3 linked regions of the Homo sapiens genome follow. The protein of the gene in region 2 purifies or fractionates together with the protein of the main gene of each other region. This does not show direct contact. Each region holds a gene or a part of one and is shown on either strand. Other genes may lie near its edges. The genes, in order: SLC4A1AP, DNAJC8 and TRAP1.

Region 1 (7,605 bases), on a different chromosome or scaffold from region 2:
GCCACCAGAAGAATGCTGCCTGCCTGGCCATGAAGGACATTTTGTCAAATCATTATCCTTCACACCCTTCCCCACAGGCCTCAGGAAGGCTCTGGCATAGAAAGACAGAAGCAACAGCAACACAGATGTTTTCAGCTACATTAAAAAGCCAGGCTGGCCTAGAGGATAAGCTAAGACTGGCTCAAAGGAGATGAAAAAGCAGAAGATGGAATCACAATCAAGATTGCTTGCAGGGGTTAGGGTAGGAGGCAGAAAGTTTGGAAGTTCAACCCATAAGTGAAAAGAGGAGGAAGAAGATACACATCTAGACCAGTATCCAAAATAGGAAAGGGAGGAAAAACCAGGCAAGCACACAGACTGATAGCAGGAGAGGAGGCTCTGGAGGAAGCTGAGACATATTTCGTTTTCGTTTTTTTTTTTTTTTAATTCTTCTTGCCCCAAATGTTGTTGTTGTTGTTGTTGTTGTTGTTGTTGTTTTCCAAAGCAGAGATTTGTTTTTGTTTTGTTTTTGTTTGTTTGTTTGTTTGAGACAGGGTCTTGCAACCTCACTCTCCCAGGTTCAAGTGATACCTCAGCCTCCCAAGTAGCAGGGATTACAGACAAGCACCACCATACCCAGCTAAGTTTTTATCTTTTGTAGAGACAGGGTCTCACTATGTTGCCCAGGCTGGTCTCAAACTCCTGAACTCAAGCCATCCTCCCACCTCACTCACTCTCCTAAAGTTCTGGGACTACAGGTGTGAGCCACCGTCCCCAGCCACTTTTATTAACAAATAGTTTTACTGTAACAAAATTATTATATGATTCTTACTTTTTCCAGTTATTTGTTATTTAGAACTAGAACTGCAACTACATTACAGTAAATTTGGACCTAAAGTGGTATGGCTATTTGGTACAGGATTTTCTTTTCAAATTCAGTATATCTGAATAGAATAGAAAGTATATTCACATGTTCAAAACTCAAGTATAAAGCACATATACTGTGAAAAGTCTCCCTCCCATTGCTGTCCCCCAGCCACCCAGTTGCCTTCCCCATTGGCAATCAATATTATTAATTTTTAACGAATCTTTCCAGAGATACAGTAGCAGATGCTGTCCCTCCCAGATTCCCTTTATCAGGCCAAACAGCTACTGCAGACATCGGCTGCTAAAGGCTCACACCTGCACCCTTCCCAGAATTGCTGTGAGCCCCTCCCACCCCCCAGTCACCGGCAGCCTATGACCAATGAAGGGTTGGGGGGACAGGGTATCGAAACCCAAGCCCCATGCCTCCATGGCATCTGTGGTGCCATTCAGGCTCTCCTGAAACCATATCTTAGCCCAGCTTCTTCTCCTGCCCTCTCCTGCTTCCCTCACTCCCATATAGATTTCTCCTGAGAGCACTCTCTTAATAAATCACTTGCAGATGAATCTCCGATTCAGTCTGTTTTTAGGGAACCCGACCTAAACAGATATTATAAACATAACCATGGCCTACTTATCTATGTATTCTTCCCCCACCATCATTTTTTACAGACAGCGCCTGTTATACACACCGTTCTGCACCTTGCTTTTGTTACTTATCTTGATAGTGTTTCTGTATCTTATATATAGTTGCCTTTTTTTTCAACAGCTATATGGTGTTCTATTGTATATCTACACCATAATTTATTTATTTTTTTGAGATGGAGTCTCGCTCTGTCGCCCAGGCTAGAGTGCAGTGGCGCAATCTCGGCTCACTGCCAGCTCCACCTTCCTGGTTCACGCCATTCTCCTGCCTCAGGCTCCCAAGTAGCTGGGACTACAGGCACCCACCACCACAACCGGCTAATTTTTTGTATTTTTAGTAGAGACAGGGTTTCACCATGTTAGCCAGGATGGTCTCGATCTCCTGACCTCGTGATCCGCCCAGCTCAGCCTCCCAAAGTGCTGGGATTACAGGCGTAAGCCGCAGCACCTGGCCGCAATTTATTTAATCCATCCCCTTTGATAAACATTTAGGGGATTTCTAATTTTTTACTACTATTAATACAAACAATGCTGTACATCATTTCCTAAGTATGTGAGGGACAAATTCCTAGAAATGAAATAGATCAAAGGGCATGTGCATTTGTAATCAGGATAGAGACTGCCAATTTGTCTTGTAGAGAATGTACTAATTTGTCCTTCAATGACAATATAAGAAAGTGCCTTTTTGTCAGCCTCATCAGCACAGTATAAAATCATAATTAATCTTCATCAAATTCATATATAAAAATGCTATTAAGACCAGGTGTGGTGGCTCACACCTGTAATCCCAGCACTTTGGGAGGCTGAGGTGGGCAGATACCTTGAGGCCAGGAGTTCAAGACCAGCTTGGGCAACATGGCAAGACCCCATCTCTACAAAAAATTAAAAATTAGCCAGGTATGGTGGAGCATGCGTGTGGTCCCAGCTACTTGGGAGGCTGAGGCAGGAGGATCACTTGATCCCAGGAGGTCAAGGCTGCAGTGAGCTGTCACTGTGCCACTGCACTCCAGCCTGGGTGACACAGTGAGACCCTATCTCAAAAAAAAAAAAAAAAGGTATTAGGTTGTAGTATTTGTATTTCTCTTATGATCATGAAGTTGAGCATCTTTGTATAAAAGATGCTATTTGTATTTCTTTTCCTGTGGCCTGTGAGTAGACATCCTTTACTCATTTTTCTCCTGGGTGGTTGGCTGTCTACTTATCATTCAGAGGTCTTTTTATTAATAATTTAATTTTTTTTTTGAGACAGGAACTTCCTCTGTCACCCATGCTGGAGTGCAATGGCACGATCACAGCTCACTGTAGCCTGGAACTCCTGGGCTCAAGCGATCCTCCTACCTCGGCTTCCCAAGTAGCTGGGACCACAGGTGTGCTCCAACATGGCTGGCTGATGTTTTTATTTTTTGTAGAGATAGGGTTGTGCCATATCACCCAGGCTGGTCTTGAAAGTGATCTGCCTGCTTCAACCTCCCAAAGTTCTAGGATTACAGGTATGAGCCACTACGCCCAGCCTCAGAGGTCTTTTTATATTAGATAAATTAGCTTTTTGTGCATGATGCTTTTTAAAGGAGTTTATTCTACACTAAAAGATTAAGTAAAAAAAACTTCGGAACCTTCCAATGAATCAGAAATCAATATAGTTTTCTCAGAAAATCCTCTATCAGTCTATATTTCACAAATATGAAACAGGTTTTTAGTTACTCTATGAAACCACTGCTTTCTGTGCTTTAAAGGGTTCCTTGCATTACATTTGTATTATATAATGATTATTTAAGAAGATAAAGCGATAATTGAAAATGTTATCTATGCTACCATACTTATTTAGAATTCCAAATATAACTAAGACTTACTTTTTTAGTTCTGGAATCTCTGCTGGCTTTACAATTTTTATTAACCCTTTAAGTCTCTGTTGTTCTTTCCTCAGTTCAAAAGTTCTCAGGTGAAGTTTCTTCCGGGACACACCATCTAATGTACTGCCTGATTTCATTTCTGACATGAACGCATCTAAAGAATCCTGAGATGGAGACTCTGATAGAACTGTCCAAGAAAAGAATAACACATGTTTAGAAAGATGATCCTGAATATTTTAAAATTCAGCCAAAGTTTCCATATAAAAGTCACTAACATAAAACCGGACAGAGGACATCACTAGTAATAGGAATAAGGAACAGGTTATAGCCATGAGACCTTGGGAAGTCATTTTGTCTCAATGTGCTTCATTCCCCTCAACAATTAAATAAAGAGGTTAAACCAAATGATTTATAATGTTCTTTCTAGTTCTAAAACGGTATGTTGCTCCTTTAAAAGGCTCCATATTCTGTATGGTATTTCTTATTAACTAATGTAGCCCCAGTGCCTAGCATAGAGCACTATATGTGGTATATTAATAAATATTTGATGAAAAACTTACCTTGGCTTGAGGCTTTCAATCTCTCAGAAATTTCAGAAAGTTCCCTTTCAGCATCATTTAATTTTGCAACCTGTAACACCCAAATCAACAGGGTTACAAAGTTTTTCTTCTTTCAAACTGTTTTTCATCCTCCTGTTTTAATTATTCTTACTAGAAGTTTTAAGAAGATTAATTCAAAAGTCCAGTTAAACTGCTACTTATGGAGTTAACACTTTTTTTTTTGTTTTGAGATAGAGCCTCATTCTGTTGCCAGGGTAGAGTGCAGTGGTGCAATCTCGGCTCTCTGCCACCTCCGACTCCCGGGTTCAAGCGATTCTCCTGCCTCAGCCTCCCAAGTAGCTGGGACTACAGGTGTGCACCACCACACCCAGCTACTTTTTGTATTTTTAGTAGAGACAGGGTTTCACCATGTTGGCCAGGATGGTCTCAATCTCCTGACCTCATGATCAGCCTGCCTCAGCCTCTCAAAGTGCTAGGATTACAGGTGTGAGCCACCACACCTGGCCAGAGTTAATAGTTTTTTTTTTTTTTTTTTGAGATGGAGTCTCGCACTGTCACCCAGGCTGCAGTGCAATGGCGTGATCTCGACTCACTGCAACCTCTGCTTCCTGCATTCAAGCAATTCTCCTGTCTCAGCCTCCAGAGTAGCTAGGACTACAGGCACACACCACCACGCCTGTCTAATTTTTGTATTTTTTTTTTTTTAGTAGAGGTGGGGTTTCACCACATTGGTCAGGTGGGTCTCGAACTCCTGACCTCAGGTGATCCACCGGCCTCAGCCTCCCAATGTGCTGGGATTACAGGCATGAGCCACCATGCCCAGCCAGGAGTTAACACTTTTTATGTGTTAAATCCAAATTTAATTTATTTCTGAATTAAAAAACACAGAATTAAACAGAATGAATAACTCGGACTTCATTTTACTCAGAAGAAAGAGCTCAAGGCATTTGTTTTCACATAAATCAAAAGGATAGATGTTGGGTAATGTTTTAAGCTCTGAATCCTACTATAAATTAATACCTGTAACAAATTCCTTGAAGTGCAATTGCTGAATCAATGCATTTTTAATACTGACAGATGTCGTAGGATTGATCACTTAAAAGGTTGTATTGTACATTCCCACCAATTGAGAGTCTACTTCTCCATATTCTGGTCAAGCTCTGCATTATTAATCTTATGTTTTTTTCTAGTCTAATAGGTAGCCTATTACCTGCCTATTATTGTCTGTTACCTACCCATTAACACGTCACCTTGTGATAATTTCCTGAAGAACATACTGTTTCAGACTACATATTACCATACTACATTCTTCAAAATTCCTTTGACTTCTCTTGACTGCCAGAAGGCTAAAGTCAATTTCACCTCAGAACGCCCTAACTTGGAACTTTTTCCTTTCCTTTTGAGAGAGGTAATATCATATCCAAAGAATGTTAATTAATGGATCAATATCCTGAAGGAAAGGATCTAGCAGCAAGCCATATTTTTTTCAAACAACTTGGATAAGACTAGTTGTCTGTTACCATTAAATTAACAGACCACAAAAGTTATACTTCAGTATCAGATTTCAATGCTACTACTTTAAAAATTATCATAAAACATATTTAAATAATACATTATGTTATTAAAAATTAAACTATTAAATACCACAGCTACTTCCATAAATAAAACTTGCCAATGATTCAAAGGTCTCTGGCTTCTCATCAATCTTGCCAGCCTTCTTCATTCTGTTCAGACGCTTCTTCTCAATCAGGCCAGTCCTATCAAGAAATGTGTCATCATCACTATCATAAAAGTCTTCATCTTCCCAGTTCTTGGCTTTCCTTTTCCGAGATACTAGAGGTAGATAAAATGATGAATAAATAAGTTTTTAAAAAAGAAAAGAAAAAGAAAGAAGGCAAGTAGGCAAGGAGCTTAAAATGTCACCATCAACTACTGAAAGAGAGGTTCTACAAGCTGCCAAACTACGTATAAAAACAAAGGGCTAAACCTTGAAGACATTATACTAAGTGAAATAAGCCATATATAAAAGGACACTTACTGCATCATGTGAGATACCTAAAGTAGTCAAATTCATAGAGACAGAAAAGTAGAATGGTGGTTGCCAGAGGCTGGGAAGGAGGGAGAATGAAGTTAGTGTTTAACAGATACCAATTTCAGTATGGAATGATAAAAAAGTTCCAAAATGAACAGTGTTGATGGTTCCATAATATTGTGAATGTACTTAATGCCACTGAGTGATACTCTTAAAATGCTTAAAATGGTACACTTTTCTGTTATGTATATTTTCCCACAATTTCTTATTAAATAATTTTTCATTAAAGCAAATAGTTAATTTATTTAATGAGCAAACGGCTTTTAAAAATCAATGAGGATGGCCAGGCATGGTAATCCCAGCACTTTGGGAGGCTGAAGGGGGATGGATCGCCTGAGGTCAAGACCAGCCTCACCAACATGGTGAAACCCCGTCTCTACTAAAAATACAAAAATTAGATGGGCATAGTGGCGGGTGCCTGTAATCCCAGCTACTCAGGAGGCTAAGGCAGGAGAATTGCTTGAACCTGGGAGATAGAGGTTGCAGTGAGCCGAGAAAGCGCCACTGCACTCCAGCCTGGGTGACAAGAGTGAAACTCTATCTCAAAAAAAAAAAAAAATCAATGAGGAAAAAAGGAAAATGAAAAATGAGAAAAAGGACAATAACCCAAAAGAAAATTTGAAAAAGGATAATGAAAGCAGTTCACAGAAAAATACAATAAATATTTTTAAATATGTTACTTTAAAAAAAAATAAAGTACAAATTTAAAAATTAGATACTTCTCATCTATTAGACTAGAAAAACATAAAAAGATTAATAATTGGTGGGAATGTACATTGATACAACCTTTTTGATGGTCAAGCCTACAATATCTGCCATTAAAAATGCATTGATCCAGCAATTCCACTTCTAGGAATTTATTCTATAAATATCAATGCAATAGTATTTATAACAGTGAATATGTAAAGAGTCCATCAATAAGAAACTATGACAGCTATTACTTTTTTGTTCACCCTACAACATTCTACTCCCTTTGTTCTGATAAAAGTACCTCTTTCCCCTAGAAAATTCCTCCCCCATTTTATCTGGTTTAGGGATAGTCATAGGACCAAAGCCAAATCAGTAAGACTCTTTCCCTCATATTTATATTTAGAGATGGGGCAAAGAGGCTCTCTTTACAATGAGGTTATTAAAGTGAGAGACTGTTAAGTTCAGGGCTGTAAGCAATCAGCTTTTCAGCACAGGGTAAGAATCTGTCTGCAAAGTTTAAAAATGCACTCGTGAGACAGACTCACTCACAGACACACACACACACACACACACACACACACACACACACACAACTTGTATATGTCCTGGTGATGCTGAGTCTACTTTGGTAGTACTAAGTTATGGTTTCAGAACTTGAGGTTCTGGTTCATGCAGTTGTTCCTTCACTCCTGTTCCTTCATCCTGAGCTATTCTTCCCAGCTTCTGCAGCCAATGACCTTTCCCCTAAGCTAGTTTGAATTGGACTTCTATTATTTGCAAGGAAAATAGTCCTTATTAATATAAGCCTAATTTGCAGGTTAAGATGGTACATTAAACACACATATCTAATTTCCCTCTTTCCCTAAATCCCAATAAACCATAGTAAAGAGATGTACCCACGCCTGGGCAACATAGCAAGACCTTG
Region 2 (7,605 bases):
TCACCTGAGGTTGGGAGTTCGAGACCAGCCTGACCAATATGGAGAAACCCCATCTCTACTAAAAATATAAAAAGTTAGCCGGGCATGGTGGCGCATGCCTGTTAATCCCAGCTACTCGGGAGGCTGAGGCAGGAGAATCACTTGAACCTGGGAGGCGGAGGTCGCAGTGAGCCAAGATCACGCCATCGCACTCCAGCCTGAGCAACAAGGGCAAAACTCCGTCTCAAAAAAAAAGTAGAATAGAGCTTTCTTCCCACTCCCAAGGGCCCAAGAAAGTGTCATAGCACCCCTAGAACGCAGGATGAGCTGCAGGTTGCAAGAGGAGGACGAAATCAGTAATAATCATCACAACACTGAGGCCCCATTTGTTGGGGACCTCGAGGCTAGACGTTTAACATGGTTTTTTTTGTTGTCATTGTTGTTGTCTTTTGTGAGATGCAGTCTCGCTCTGTTGCCCAGGCTGGAGTGCAGTGGTGCGATCTCGGCTCACTACAACCTCTGCCTCCCGGGTTCACATCATTCTCCTGCCTCAGCCTCCTGAATAGCTGGGACTAAAGGGGCCCGCCACCACGCCCGGCTAATTTTTTGTATTTTTAGTAGAGACGGGGTTTCACCGTGTTAGCCAGGATGGTTTCGATCTCCTGACCTCATGATCCGCCTGCCGTGGCCTCCCAAAGTGCTGGGATTACAGGCATGAGCCACCTCACCCGGCCTTTTTTTTTCTTTTTTTTTTTTTTTTTGAGACGGCTCTGTCACCCAGGCTGGAGTGCAGTGGCACAATCTTGGCTCACTGCAAGCTCCACCTCCTGGGTTCACACCGTTCTCCTGCCTCAGCCTCCTGAGTAGCTGAGACTACAGGTGCCAGCCACCACACCTGGCTAATTTTTTGTATTTTTTTAGTAGAGACAGGGTTTCACCATGTTAGCCAGGATGGTCTCAATCTCCTGACCTCATGATCTGCCCGCCTTGGCCTCCCAAAGTGCTGGGATTACAGGCTTGAGCCACCACGCCCGGCCAGCATATGGTATTTCTAATTGTCACCAAAAGCCGACTATGGTGTGTACTGCTACCAGTGCTTCACAAATAACACTGAGGCTCAAAAAGGTTAAATGATTTTCTAAAAGCCATACAGCTAGCTAGCAGTACAGCTACTCTTTCCACTGCACCTTTCTGCTGCCCCCCAAAACTTGGATGGCTGCTCCAAAGCCAGTACAATGCCTAGCGAGTTGTGTAGGGGTGGCCACTAGGACCTCTACCTCATTATCATTTTTTCTCTTTCCATACATGAAGTGCAACAGAAACAAAGTCATCAACTCTGATTAGCCAGCCCCTAACCATGAGTCCTAAACCCTATAGAAGAAAAGACCGAATGTTGCCACAATCCTTCTGTCCAACCACCTGAAGCATATAACCAGGGTGTCAAAGAAGAGTCAAGTTCAAAGGTTCTAACTCTCTCTGCAGGTAGGACACTGTGGGCACAAGAACTTCAGCATCTACTAACAGATCTCTAAGCAGCACAATACTCTATGCTTACCCCCTAAATTAAAAGTGCAATCCATTTTTCTTGAGCCCACTGGGCAGCTGTGCCTACTACAATCTAAAAAACCATTCAGGGTGAAACTGTTAGTGTGCTGTAAAAAGAAATTAAACAATAATTTTTAAAAATAAATTTTAAAAAAGCCATTCAGGGATCCTCATCGTCCTTGCCAAGGCTACAGAGCTTACAGGAGGCTGAGGCAGGCCCAGCCTCATTCTTCACCTCTCCCACTCTTCCCCACATATCCCACTCCCCTCTGACTGCCCCACTCAGTCCTGGGAGCGCCACAGGAACCAAGCTGCCTTATTCTGGAATTAGAATCCCTGGCCACCTTGGAAATTTACCTCAAAGTTTTTCTGCCACTCTCTTTCCCGTTTGGCTTTTTCTTGAGCTTCAATCTCTTCTTCCCTTTGTCGTTTCCTAGGAGGAAAACCAGATCATAGTATTTATATGATACTTACAGACTGAATTAACCATACAAGGTGGCATCTCCCCACAGAAGCAAGCATATATAGTAAATCAATTCCCTAGAAGTCTACAAAGATGGCTGTCTGGAAAGGGCTCATAGCATTTTCATGAATGTCTCATTCTAAAACACGCAGATCAGACTTGGGCATGGCTGTGGGGAAAGACATAAATATCCTTGTTACACAGATAAAGTAACTAAAGCCCAGCCAAGAGCAATCTGAGGTTTTGGGCTCTTTCAGTGACAAAGCTATGTCGAGAACACAGGCCACCTTATTTCAGCAGAATGACCATTATAAAGCCAAAGTTCTTAAGATCTCTGGACAAAACCCTATCCGAAAACAAAGATATTTCACACAACCTCAACTAGCAAATTTTAGTTACTGGTACCTACCAAGCAACAATATAAAATACATACAGAAACAAAACTCGGCCGGATGTAGCGGCTCATGCCTGTAACGCCAGCACTTTGGGAGGCTGGGGCAGGTGGATCATGTGAGGTCAGGAGTTCGAGACCAGCCTGACCAACATGGTGAAACCCCGTCTCTACTAAAAATGCAAAAATTAGCCAGGCAGGAGAATCACCTGAACCTGGGGAGGTGGAGGTTGCAGTGAGCCAAGATCATGCCATTGCACTCCAGCCTGGGCAACAAAAGCGAAATTCTAACATTTCTGATGTTCAAGAGAAATCATATTTTAGAACATTAAACATTTTGTTACTGATGACACTACAGTACTATACACTCACCAAAGCTGTAGCCACTAGCCCCACAAAAGGTTCTGGCTTCAGTAACAATGGCCTTAATAACTGCTTATTTCACTCCAGGACATCAGGAAGAACACACACAAGGCTCTTGATTATAAATAAACTCCCTGGCAGCATGCAGTGGCTCATGCCTGTAATCCTAACACTTTGGGAGGGCAAGGCAGGCAGATCACGAGGTCAGGAGATCGAGACCATCCTGGCCAACATGGTGAAACCCTGTCTCTACTAAAATACAAAAAATTAGCCGGGCATGGTGGTGTACACCTGTAGTCCCAGCTACTCAGGAGGCTGAGGCAGGGGAACTGCTAGAACCTGGGAGGTGGAGGTTGCAGTGAGCCAAGATCGCACCACTGCATTCCAGCCTGGCTACAGAGCAAGACTGTGTCTCAAAAAAATAAATAAAAAATACACTCCCTAAGGACAGACCTATTCAATAATTCTCAAAAGTCAAAGAAAAAAACTACTTACCCTGGTGATTCAAAAGCTTGACTGTTTTTAGGTAACTATTTTTATAGTCTCTTAAATGGTATACTATATAATTCCCTCATTAGGAAAATCACCAAAGACCAATGTTAGTTAATCTAGGTATTTAAATATGGTTTAAATGAATATACTGATATGTACCTTTCATGCATCTCTTTGGCTTCTCTCTCTTTCCTTTTAATTTCCAGCTCTGCAAAGAGTTTCATTGTCTGTTTATATACAGCTTGTTTGAACTACAGGAAAATCAAGAACAAAAGAAAATCAGAGTAAATATTTTTACCAGCAACTTGAACCATGTACTTTCACCTGGAGTCCAAGATAAAGCAGATTAAAACCTGGCACAGGCTGTGCACCGTGGCTCACATCTGTAATTCCAACACTTTGGAAGGCCAAAGGCAGGAGAATCGTTTGAGGCTAAGAGCTTGACTGCCCTGGCAACATAGTGAAACTCTATTGCTACAAAAAAATTTTTTTTAAAACTAGCGTGCAGGCCAGGCGCAGTAGCTCACACCTGTAATCCCAGCACTTTGGAAGGCCAAGGTGGGCAGATCACCTGAGGCCAGGAGTTCAAGACCAGCCTGGCCAACATGGTGAAACTCTGTCTCTATCAAAAATACAAAAATTAGCCAAGCATGTTGGTGCGTGACTGTAATCCCAGCTACTCGGGAGGCTGAGGCAGGAGAATCACTTGAACCCAGGAGACAGAGGTTGCAGGGAGCTGAGATCATGCCATTGCACCCCAGCCTGGGCAACAAGAGGGAAACTCCGTCTCAAAAACAAAAATTAGCGGGGCATGGTGGTGCACACCTGTAGATCCAGCGTTTCAAGAGGCTAAGACAGCAGGATCACTTAAGCCCTGGAGTTTGAGACCACCCTGAGCAACATAGTGAGATCCCATCTCTACAAAAAATATTAAAAATAAAACATTAACCAGGTGTGGTGGCGCACACTTGTAGTCCCAGCTACTCAGAAGGCTGAGGTGGGAGGATCGCTTGAGCTCAGGAGGTCAAGGCTGCAGTGAGCCATGACTATGCCACTGCACTCCAGCCTGGACAACAGAGCAAGACTCTATCTCTTTTTTAAAAAAGTATATTATATGATAGTCTTACAATGATAGGAACAGAAGCTATTATTATTTATTATTATTGTTTTTGAAACAGGGTCTCAATCTGTCACCCAGGCTAGAGTGCAGTGGTGTGATCATAGCTCACTGCAGCCTCAACTCCTAAGCTGAAAAGATCCTCCTACTTCAGCCCCCAAAGCACTTGGATTATAGGTATGAGCCACCAGAGGTTATTATTAGAATGTATAATATCCACTAAGGTGGGAGGATCACTTGAGCCTAGGAGGTCAAGGCTGCAGTGAGTTAAGATCATGCCACTATATTCCAGCCGGGGTGACAAAGGGAGACCCTATCTCTAAAAAGAATTACAAAAAAATAAGTGAACGTAAGTGACCCAGCCCCTGTCACACTAAGTTAATGAAATCACAATGCCCTCCCTACCAGTTTTTAATTCTTTATTTTCAAGAGTTCTTAAGAACACAGCTTATGTTATTCTACCTTTAAATATTTTTCTCCAGATATAAAGTATTTTAAATAGACATGGAAGTACAAAAGTAATCTGTCATGCATATTTAATAGTGCCTAAATTCTAAAATCAGACACTGGAGCAAAGAGTGATATATGGAGAGAAAGGAAAATAAAGAAGTCCCTAAATCTCTGTGACTTCTCTTTTATCCTGTTACCTGCTAGACACTGCTCACTAAAAGCAATGCTTCAACCCCAGTCCCTAATAAAGACAAACATCAAAGGGATAAAGGAGTCTGTAATGAATAGCTCAGTATATTTAAAAGCTCCATACACGGGATAGACAGACACTGCGATTTTATATTTTTTATATTTCTCTTTTTCCAAATTTTCTATCATTAGCATGTGTTCTTTTATAATCAGGAAAAAAAAAAACAACTGAAAAAAATTGGGCCAGGTGCGGTGGTCCACGCCTGTAATCCCAGCACTTTGGGAGGCCGAGGAGGGCAGATCACTTGAGGTCAGGAGTTTGAGATCAGCCTGACCAACATGATGACATCCCGTCTCTATTAAAAATACAAAAATTAGCCAGGCTTGATGGCGGGCATCTGTAATCCCAGCTACTCAGGAGGCTAAGGCAGGAGAATCACTTGAACCTGGGAGGCAGAGGTTGCAGTGAGCTGAGATCGCACCACTGCTCTCTAGCCTGGGCAACAGAGTAAGACCCCGTCTCAAACAAATACATAAATAAATGTATATTTATATGTTTTAAGTTCAAATAAAATGTTTGTTGTTGTTGTTGTTGTTGTTGTTGTTTTAAGACAGAGTCTTGCTATGTCACCAGGCGGAGGTGCAGTGGCGCGATCTTGGCTCACTGCAATCTCTGCCTCCCAGGTTCAAGCAATTCTCCTGCCTCAGCCTCTCGGGTAGTTGGGATTACAGGCACGTGCCACCACGCCCAGATAATTTCTGTATTTTTAGTAGAGACGGGGTTTCACCATGTTGGCCCGGATGGTCTCGAACTCCTGATCTCATGATCCACCCGCCACGGCCTCCCAAATTTCTGGGATTACAGGCGTGAGCCACTGCGCCCAGCCAAATAAAATGTTTTTTTAAAAAATAAAAATTAGGCCGCGCACGGTGGCTCATGCCTGTAATCCCAACACTTTGGGAGGCCGAGGCGGGTGGATCACCTGAGGTCAGAAGTTCAAGACCAGCCTAGCCAACATGATGAAACCCCGTCTCTACTAAAAATACAAAAAAATTAGCCAGAGGCCGGGCAGGGTGGCTCATGCCTGTAGCCTGCAATCCCAGGACTTTGGGAGGCCAAGGCAGGCGGATCATCTGAGGTCAGGAGTTCGAGACCAGACTGACAAACATGGAGAAACCCCATCTCTACTAAAAATACAAAATTAACCGGGCATGGTGGTACATGCTGGTAATCCCAGCTACTTGGGAGGCTGAGGCAGAAGAATCGTTTGAACCCAGGAGGCAGAGGTTGCAGTGAGCCGAGATCGCGCCATTGCCCTCCAGCCTGGGCAACAAGAGTGAAACTCAGTCTCAAAAATAATAAATAAATAAATAAATAAATGTGAAATAGCATATATTCATCATTCTTTTGGCTTCTGTCTCTGTAACCCACCAATTCGTAGACACAATCACACAAGATACAGTGGCTTTTCCTATATTTAACTCACCAGCTCAGGATCATCCTCCTCTACAATTGTAGGTTTTCCTTCCTTCTTTAATTGTTTTTTTCGCTCTTTCACCTAAAAAGAATTTTTTTTCATCAAAAGACGAGCATCTGTGCTTTGAGAATATCCACTGGGCTGTACACATACAATATATTTAACTTTCTATAGGCACGGGTATAGCAAAAAGTTTTCATTAAAAAAAAAAAGAGCCCCTCCCCTCCCTCCTCAAAAGAACAACAGAATCAAGGAAAATTAGGAACCACAAGTCCTTTTTCTAATCTCATCTAAAATCCAATCTACCAGGAAGAATGAAAGATGAAAGGGGACCAACGGGAGGTTGTCCCCAACTCATCAGATCCAAAAAGTCTTTGAAACAGACTACTTATTTACCTTTCTTGGCTTGTGGTTATGTGTTTAGAGCAAAGCAAATATATCTGTCAAGTTTTAGAAGAAGCTACAGAATCTGTGGCATTATGTCCAAGTAGTTTTTCTGGCATTTCTATAACTGCATTCTTGATCACTTTCACCATGGAACCTCCTTAAACCACATATCATATTAACTGATACTTTTATCACATTGGCCACTACTGAGATAAAAAATAAATAAATAAATATACGAATTCATACAAGAATGACACTACTCCATGAACTAACCAGTCTATTATACCAGCAAAGGCCAAGTACCCTCTAAGCTCAGAAAGGCCCTACTGCCACCCTGTGGTCAGGAAGCCTAAGGATGACTTTCTTACAGGTGAAAGACATACGAAGCCACAATGATTTAAGGAGAAACTGTCAGGCACTTTCCCTATTTCTACCAGGATAGGGCCTACAAGTGCCATTTCCAACACATGACCCGCAGGATATAGTTATGGGCCCTTTGTCTCCTCTTCTTATCCATTTTCCTCACCGAAACTGGATTCATTATTATGGTTATAAAGTTGTCTCAGATTTCAAAGCTCTTCATGTGAAAAGTCATCCAATCACAATTGAAGCAGCTCTTACAAATGACCTCAAGATTCTTGCCCCAGCAAGTAAAAAGTTAAAAGACCTTTCTTACCTTGGGAAAGCCATACTGACATTTCCCACCACATTGGAGACTTATGTATGCCCTCAAGAGCAAACAAAAATAACA
Region 3 (8,432 bases), on a different chromosome or scaffold from region 2:
TTTGCTGACCCATTCATCGTTCATGGTTACCTGAGTTGCTTCCACATTTTGGCTATTGTGAATAAAGCACCGGGCATTTTTCACGGCCCTCAGCTGACCCCAGTGGAAGGCAGTGGCTTCATATGGGCAGCCTCGTATTGGCCATAGAGGTGGGCAGGAGACTTGGGGGTTCTTCCCTTTCCCTCCCCAAGCAGCTCCCAGTCATTCTCCACTAATTCAAGTCAAGTACGTCTGCGTGTAAACATTTTTTCCTCTTTCTAGATTCTTGGTTTACGCGGAGCCTGAAGTCCATGTGTGGCCACCTTAGGACATGCCTTGGATCCCTCAGTACCTTACAAAGCCACAGGTCCAGCCGGGCGCAGGGGCTCACGCCTGTAATCCCAGCACTTTGGGAGGCCAAGGCAGGCGGATCACGAGGTCAGGAGATCGAGACCATCCTGGCTAACAGGGTGAAACACTATCTCTACCAAAAATACAAAAAAATTAGCTGGGCATAGTGGCACGTGCCTGTAGTCCCAGCTACTTGGGAGGCTGAGGCAGGAGAATCACTTGAACCCGGGAGGCGGAGGTTGCAGTGAGCCAAGACTGCGCCACTGAACTCCAGCCTGGGTGACAGAGTGAGACTCCGTCTCAAAAATAAAAAAATAAAAAAAAGTCACAGGGCCCTGGGCTAGCAGAGGCCCCAGGACCACAAGGCTCTGAGGCTGAGGGTTTGTCTCTGAAGGCTACAGGCCAACAGGACAGAAGGCTCTGGGGGTTTTTCTGGAACTTGGTAGATTTGCCCTCCACAGAACTTGGGGCCTGCCAGTCTTGGCAGAGGCCCCCCACCCTTAACTAAAGCCCAGGTTTCCCTCCTTTTGCCAAATATCACTTCCCCTTGTTGAAACTGGCCTGGTGTGGTGGCTTAAGCCTGTAATCCCAGCATTTTGGGAGGCCGAGGCAGGCGGATCACTTGAGGTCAGGTGTTCGAGACCAGCCTGGCCAACATGGTGAAACCCCGTCTCTACTAAAAATACAAAAATCGGCCAGGCATGGTGGCGGGTGCCTACAATCCCAGCTACTCAGGAGGCTGAGGCAGGAGAATCACTTGAACATGGGAGGCAGAGGTTGCAGTGAGCCGAGATCACACCACTGCACTTAAGCCTGGGCAACAAGCACGAAACTCTGTCTCAAACAACAAAAAACAAAACAAAACAAAAAAAGAAATAAAAGGCCTAAGCCAGATATATTGCCCCATGGACCAATGTGACAGCTGTTACAAAACAGAGGATTGGCCGGGTGCGGTGGCTCACGCCTGTAATCCCAGCACTTTGGGAGGCAGAGATGGGCGGATCACGAGGTCAGGAGATCGAGACCATTCTGGCTAACATGGTGAAACCCCGTCTCTACTAAAAATTCAAAAAGAAATTAGCCGGGTGTGGTGGTGGGCGCCTGTAGTCCCAGCTACTCGGGAGGCTAAGGCAGGAGAATGGAGTGAACCCGGGAGGCAGAGCTTGCAGTGAGCCGAGATCACACCACTGCACTCCAGCCTGGGCAACAGAGCAAGACTCTGTCTCAAAAAAAAAAAAAAAAAAAAAAAGAGAGAGATGATTTCCTGAATGGAGCGAAAAAGGGATGAAATGTGAAGCCGAGACACCCCCCACCCACCCCCATTCCCTGAGGACATGCTGGAAAGGGCTCTGCCTGGAGTGTGGTGATAGGGAACACAGGCAGGCCCATGCAGGCCTATAGGAGGAGGCAGAAGGAGTTTGGAAAGGATTGTAAATATGTGCATGTGTGTTGGTAGGGGGACCACTGGAGGATCTGAGAGACGGAGTATGATCCGGCTGCTGTGGAGGATGGGAGGCTGGCAAGAGCGGAAGCAGGGGGCCTGTCAGGGCTGCTGGAGTGGTCTGGGTGACAGGACCCTGCTCTTCCACCCAAATCTGCCCACCCTCTTTCCATTCCCTTCTCAATTGCTTAAGCTGGGAACTTGCCACTTTCCACCTGGAAGCGTTTCCTGACACATCCTCTTCCACCCAGCTCTGTCCCGGCCCCACTGAAGGTCACTCTCCTGGCTCCTGTGCTTCTCTGCAGCACGTGCCACGAGCTGGAGTCGCTATTTTTGTACAGTTATTAGAGTGTGGCAGTGAATCTTCAGTGTGCCTCCGAATTACCTGGGAACCTCAGTGGAGCCGCCTGGGCCCCACTCCGGGACTGAGGAGGTGCCGGGAAATCGGCATTATGAGGCTGCAGCTGGGTCTGGACCAAATGTTAGACCAGGGTGTATGGTCTGAATCTCCAACTAGTCTCTAACCTCCAGCAAGGTGTAAAGCAAAAACAAATTCTTTTTTTGCTGTTGTTTTTTGAGATAGAGTCTCACTCTGTTGCCCAGGCTGGAGTGCAGTGGCACGATCTCAGCTCACTGCAACCTCTGCCTCCCGGGTTCAAGCGATTCTCCTGCCTCAGCCTCCCGAGTAGCTGGGATTATAGGCATGTGCCGCCATGCCCGGCTAATTTTGTATTTTTAGTGGAGACAGGGTTTCTCCATGTTGGTCAGGCTGGTCTTGAACTCCCAACATCAGGTGATCCGCCTGCCTCGGCCTCCCAAAGTACTGGGATTACAGGCGTGAGCCACCGTGCCCAGCCGGCAAAAACACATTATAAGTCCCCCAACCCATGGAATGGATCATTCCTCTCCACCAAGGGGATTTCAAAGAAACCTAAAAAACTAGTTCAGGCCATAATTGGAAGGATGGGGTGGGTCCTGCCTCATTACACCCTCCACCCCTTGGAAATGAGGCACAACTGACCAGCGTTAACATTACAAAGGACTTTTTTTTTTTTTTGAGACGGAATCTTGTTCTGTTGCCCAGGCTGGAGTGGGAGTGCAGTGGTGCGATCTTGGCTCACTGCAATCTCTGCCTCCTGGGTTCAAGCGATTCCCCTGCTTCAGCCTCCCGAGTAGCCTCAGCTGTACACAGGTGCACACCACCACACCCAGGTAATTTTTTTTGTTTTTGAGACAGACTTTCACTCTTGTTGCCCAGGCTGGAGTGCAATGGTGCGGTATCAGCTCACTGCAACCTTCACCTCCTGGGTTCCAGCGATTCTCCTGCCTTAACCTCCTGCGTAGCTGGGATTACAGGCATGCGCCACCACGCCTGACTGATTTTTTGTATTTTTAGTAGAGACGGAGTTTCTCCCTGTCAGTCACGCTGGTCTCGAACTCCCGACCTCAGGTGATCTGCCCGCCTCAGCCTCCCAAAGTGCTAGGATTACAGGCGTGAGCCACTGCTCTTGGCCTAATTTTTGTATTTTTAGTAGAGATGGGGTTTTGCCATGCCGACCAGGCTGGTCTCAACCTCCTGACCTCAAGTGATAAGACCACCTTGGCCTCCTAAAGTGCTGGAATTACATGCGTAAGCCACCATGCCAGGCCACCTTTGCAGGTCTTTTCCTGATCCTGAGGGTCTAGGAATTTTTAACGGTCTGAATAAACAATATTTGCGAAAACATTTGCCATCTATTACCTGTAAGGGTGGTCATCTATGAGACTTCCTCTACATAATAAGAACCTTGGTCTTCACAACCTGTTTTTTGTTTGTTTGTTTGTTTGTTTGTTTTGAGACAGGGTGTGGCTCTCTTGCCCAAGCTGGAGTTCAATGGCACGAACTTGGCTCACTGCAACCTCTCCCTCCTGGGCTTAAGCAATCCACCCACCTCAGCCTCCCTTGTAGCTGGGATTACAGGCCTCCGCCACCACATCCGGTACAGGTATGTTTGGTACAGACAGGGTCTCACCATGTTGCCCACGCTGCTCTCCAACTCCTGACCTCAAGCAATTCGCCCACCTCGGCATCCCAAAGTGTTGGGATTACAGGTGTGAGTCACCGTGCTCGTGCCCACAACCCCTTATCTTCACCCAGACACTCTTTTTATTGATTCCAGGTCTGTATAACTCAACTCTTTTTTTTCTTTTTTTTGTTTTCTTTTTTTTTTTTTTTTGAGACGGAGTCACAGCTCTGTCGCCCAGGCTGCAGTGCAAGTGGCACGATCTCGGCTCACTGCAACCGCAGCCTCCCGGGTTCACGCTATTCTTCCGCCTCAGCCTCCCCAGGAGCTGGGACTACAGGCACGTGCCACCTTGCCCAGCTAATTTTTTGTATCTTAGTAGAGATGATGGGTTTTCACCATGTTGGCCAGGCTGGTCTCGGACTCCTGACCGCAGGCAGTCCGCCCACCTCAGCCTCCCAAAGTGCTAGGATTACAGGCGTGAGCCACCGCGCCCAACCAGAACTCAACTCTTTTAACCAATTGCCAATCAGAAAGTATCTGAATCCACCTATGACCTCTAAGTATTTCACCCTTTGAGTTGTCCTGCCTTTCCACACGGAACCAACCTATGTCTTACATGCATTGACTGATGTCTTATGTCTCTCTAAAATGTATAAAACCAAGCAAGCTGTAACCCAAGCACCTTGGGCCAAGTTCTCAGGACCTTTTGAGACTGTGCCTCCCTCCATGCACACTCATATTTGGCTCAGAATAACCTTCTAAATACTTTAGAGTTTGACTCTTCTCGACAAGGACAAGAGAAGTGGAATAAACGAATAACCGCAGTTTTCCTGGTGGTATTGGTCACTGGGTTCAGGTTTTGGAGTAGTAGCCAGTCAAGCCTGGAATCCCCTTCCTCATTCGCTTTAGCTTTTTGTCCAGTCTTGGTTTGCAAGAGACTTGCAGCGGCCTAGACGGATGGCCGGGATTCACAAAGGTCGCAGACACGGGAACTGCTTCTTCCCCAGCGTCGCCTCCACACCCTCGCGTGGATACTGACATCCGCCCCATTCCAGGAATGCGCACAGCTAGGCGCAGCCGGCCAGCGTGGGCCGGGGGCGGCGGGGCCACCTCCCCCACCTCCGCGCGCAAGGCCCGTCGCCCTTGACAACGCGATCCAAGGTCACGGAGGTCCCACCCCCAGGCCCGACCGTCCACGAGACGGGTAGTACCCCGCCACGCGCCCGAGCAGGCAGCTGCCCGGACAGCCCGGCGCCCGCCGTGACGTCACCGCCCCGCGCCCGAGGAAGCCCCGCCCCGCGCAGCCCCGTCCCGCCCCTTCCCATCGTGTACGGTCCCGCGTGGCTGCGCGCGGCGCTCTGGGAGTACGACATGGCGCGCGAGCTGCGGGCGCTGCTGCTGTGGGGCCGCCGCCTGCGGCCTTTGCTGCGGGCGCCGGCGCTGGCGGCCGTGCCGGGAGGTGAGGGCGTCCTGGCTGGACGGGCAGCGGGCGGGCCGGGCCACGGAGACGGCAGGGACGTCCCTGTGCTCCGGGGAGCGAGGCGCCGGCACCTGCTTCACAGGCGTGGGAGGTCCGGCGAGGCCAAGCGCGGCAGACGCGTTTACTTTCGCTCCGCTCCTCGCCAGCTCCAGCTTGGCTGCCTTTTCCTCGGCTGGACTCCCCTCGCCACCCGCCCATGGGAGCCCTGAAGGAGGCTGGGTCTTGGGGGGTCGCGGGGTCGGGCGGAGCGGCTGCGGGGTCGTCCCTCCTGGAGCTTCGGTCCAGTCAGGTAGCGCACGTGCAGGTGGAGCCGCTGCGGAGCGCGGAGTCTTTGCGGGTGCATGTTGCGGGGAATGGACTCACTCGGGGTGATCGTGCTAGTTCCATGGATCGTGCTTTACCCCTCCCCGCCTCCCAGTAGCGCACTGAGGGTTCATTTGTTAATTCGTTCATTGGACGCACATGTGAGCGCCCGCTCAGTGCCCGGCGCCGTGCAGGTTCTGGGGACGCCACAGTGAACAAAACCTATAGCAGTCATCCGGGTCCCCAGAGCAGGTGGACTCGATGTCGTTGACGCAGCTGTGTCCTCGGGGCCTGGAATTGATGGATGCGCCAATAAATGTTTGTAAAACAGAGAGAACGACCCTAACCTCTGCTTTCCCAGTCCCCACTCGGAGGTAACAACAGTGAAAGTTTCGGCATTGCTTCGGGGCTGTACACAGTGTTATACGTGTAAATATAAATGTCTGCGTATAAGTATTTTTTATTCTAAAAAGCCTAAACCATGTATGCATTGTGCTACGTTGTACTTCAGAAAATTTTAACGCTCCCAGCATTCTTTCCACATCTTTTCATGTCAGTGTATACAGGTCCATGTGCCTTCCAGTGACCACACAGTATTCTGTATGATGGACGTGTCATTTGTTTAAACATTGTCCTATTAGTGGACGCAATAAAGGTTATTTCAGGTTTTACTTTTTATTACAATGCTGCATAGAATGGGTGAGTACTTAAATATTTGTTCACGTGCGGTATTTCTTTAGCCTTACATAATTAGAATTTTAGAATTGATATTTCAGAGCCTATGCATTTTTGAAATGTTAGCAGATACTGCCAAATTGTCCAAAAAGGCCTTATCAATTTATATCCCCTTTAGCAGGCATCAAGACTGCCTATTCCAAAGGTATTTTCTTCAACGCTGAATCTTATGTCTTTTCAAAACCAGTGGTCTATAAAAGATACCTTGTGGCCGGGCGCGGTGGCTCACGCCTGTAATCCTAGCACTTTGGGAGCCTGAGGTGGGCAGATCAGGAGTTCAAGACCAGCCTGGCCAACATGGTGAAACCCTGTCTCTACTAAAAATACAAAAATTAGCTGGGTGTGGTGGCGCGCGCCTGTAATCCCAGCTTCTTGGGAGGCTGAGGCAGGAGAATCGCTTGAACCCAGGAGGCAGAGATTGCAGTGAGCTGAGATTGCACCACTGCACTCCAGCCTGGGCGACAGAGTGAGACTTCATCTCAACAACAAAAATAATAATAATTTTCCCTCAGAAAGTGATGCTGTTGCTCTCTTCTAGCACCAGTGTCTGATCAATTATTTATTTATTTTTTTGTCTTTATGAGGTGGGGTTTCACTATGTTGGCCAGGCTGGTCTCCAGTGCCTGACCTCAAGTGATCTGCCTGCCTTGCCCTCCAAAATGCTGGGATTGCAGGCGTGTGTCACCGTGCCTGGCCAACTGTTCTGTTAATTTGGTTCTCGTTTCTTTTGTAGCTGACTCGGGTTTTTTCCCCCTTGGAGGTTAAGATTTTTTCTCTTTGTCGTTTGTGGTCTCGCGTCCACAGGTGTTTGTGATTCATGCTTTGTATCATGCACTGTCCCTTCCATTTGGAAAATATGTCAGTTTTCAGCCCAGGGACATTTTAATTCTGTTTCTTTATCTCTTTTTCTTTTTCTTTTTTTTTGAGATGGAGTCTTGCTCTGTCACCCAGGCTGGAGTGCAGTGGCGCGATCTTGGCTCACTGCAAGCTCCGCCTCCCGGGTTCAGGCCATTCTCCTGCCTCAGCCTCCCGAGTAGCTGGGACTTTAGGCGCCCACCACCATGCCTGGCTAATTTTTTGTATTTTTAGTAGAGACGGGGTTTCACCCTGTTAGCCAGGATGGTCTCGATCTCCTGACCTCGTGATCCGCCCACTTCGGCCTCCCAAAGTGCTGGGATTACAAGCGTGAGCCGCTGTGCCCAGCCCTTTATCTCTTTTTCTTAAAAATTGTCTCTCTCCTCTCGTCCTCCATCTTCTGGTGCGGTGGTTCAAGCATTCCTCTGCCTGAGTCTAAGAAATGGAACATGTTCTTGGCAGCCTTCTGCGTGGCAGGTGCCCTTGTCATTGTCACCTGTGTGGATGAATGGGAAGGTAAATTGTTTGGATTGATTGAACGATGAGAGAATTTAGCTAAGAAAATACATGTCTTGTGCAACAGGGGAGAAAGAATAGTTTAGGCAGATCCACCTATGTAGAAAATCCAGACCTCTTGAAATTTTTTTCTTTTCTTGGGAAAGTATTTCCAGGTTGTAGCATGTGCCTGGCTTCAGGTGTGCGTGTCTTATGTCTGTGGAATCCTCTCGCCCATGCTACGCTGCCTCAGTCACCCATGAGCTCAGCCCTCTTACCCTTTCAGACCTCACTGACCCCTGACACTGCCAGCCCTGTCACTTGCCCTCAGAATATCTTATTTGATTTTTTTTGAGCCGGAGTCTTGCTCTGTTGCCCAGGCTGGAGTGCAGTGGTGCAACCTCAGCTCACCACACCCTCCGCCTCCTGGGTTCGAGTGATTCTCCTGACTTCGCCTCCCACGTAGCTGGGACTACAGGCGCATGCCACCACACCCAGCTAGGTTTTGTATTTTTAATAGAGATGGGGTTTCACTATGCTGGCCAGGGTGGTCTCGAACTCCTGACCTCATGATCCACTAGCCTTGGCCTCCCAAAATGCTGGGATTACAGGCGTGAGCCACTGCGCCTGGCCTACCCTCAGAATATTTCTGTGAGGGGTGGGCTAGGATATCCGCTTGTGGACTTTATATTTGTCATTTTTGCCCATAACAGTTTATTCAGCAAATACATTTCCAATGCCCCCGAGTCGTCAAAGAAAATGTGACCCTGCTGTCTGGAGTCATAGG

The links.
Region 1: the proteins of DNAJC8 (region 2) and SLC4A1AP purify together in Homo sapiens (affinity purification with mass spectrometry; 2 studies listed by BioGRID and IntAct, with this or other methods). This does not show direct contact.
Region 3: the proteins of DNAJC8 (region 2) and TRAP1 purify together in Homo sapiens (affinity purification with mass spectrometry; 2 studies listed by BioGRID, with this or other methods). This does not show direct contact.

What each region holds. Positions count from the first base shown.
Region 1 is NC_000002.12:27,673,658-27,681,262, reverse strand, and holds part of SLC4A1AP (kanadaptin), read right to left. Parts: intron 5,732-7,605; coding exon 5,571-5,731; intron 3,969-5,570; coding exon 3,899-3,968; intron 3,526-3,898; coding exon 3,339-3,525; intron 1-3,338.
Region 2 is NC_000001.11:28,201,866-28,209,470, forward strand, and holds part of DNAJC8 (dnaJ homolog subfamily C member 8), read right to left. Parts: intron 6,549-7,605; coding exon 6,477-6,548; intron 3,485-6,476; coding exon 3,393-3,484; intron 1,958-3,392; coding exon 1,882-1,957; intron 1-1,881. UniProt on the Homo sapiens protein: Suppresses polyglutamine (polyQ) aggregation of ATXN3 in neuronal cells.
Region 3 is NC_000016.10:3,714,225-3,722,656, reverse strand, and holds the start of TRAP1 (heat shock protein 75 kDa, mitochondrial isoform 1 precursor), read left to right. Parts: upstream 1-5,132; 5' UTR 5,133-5,148; coding exon 5,149-5,236; intron 5,237-8,432.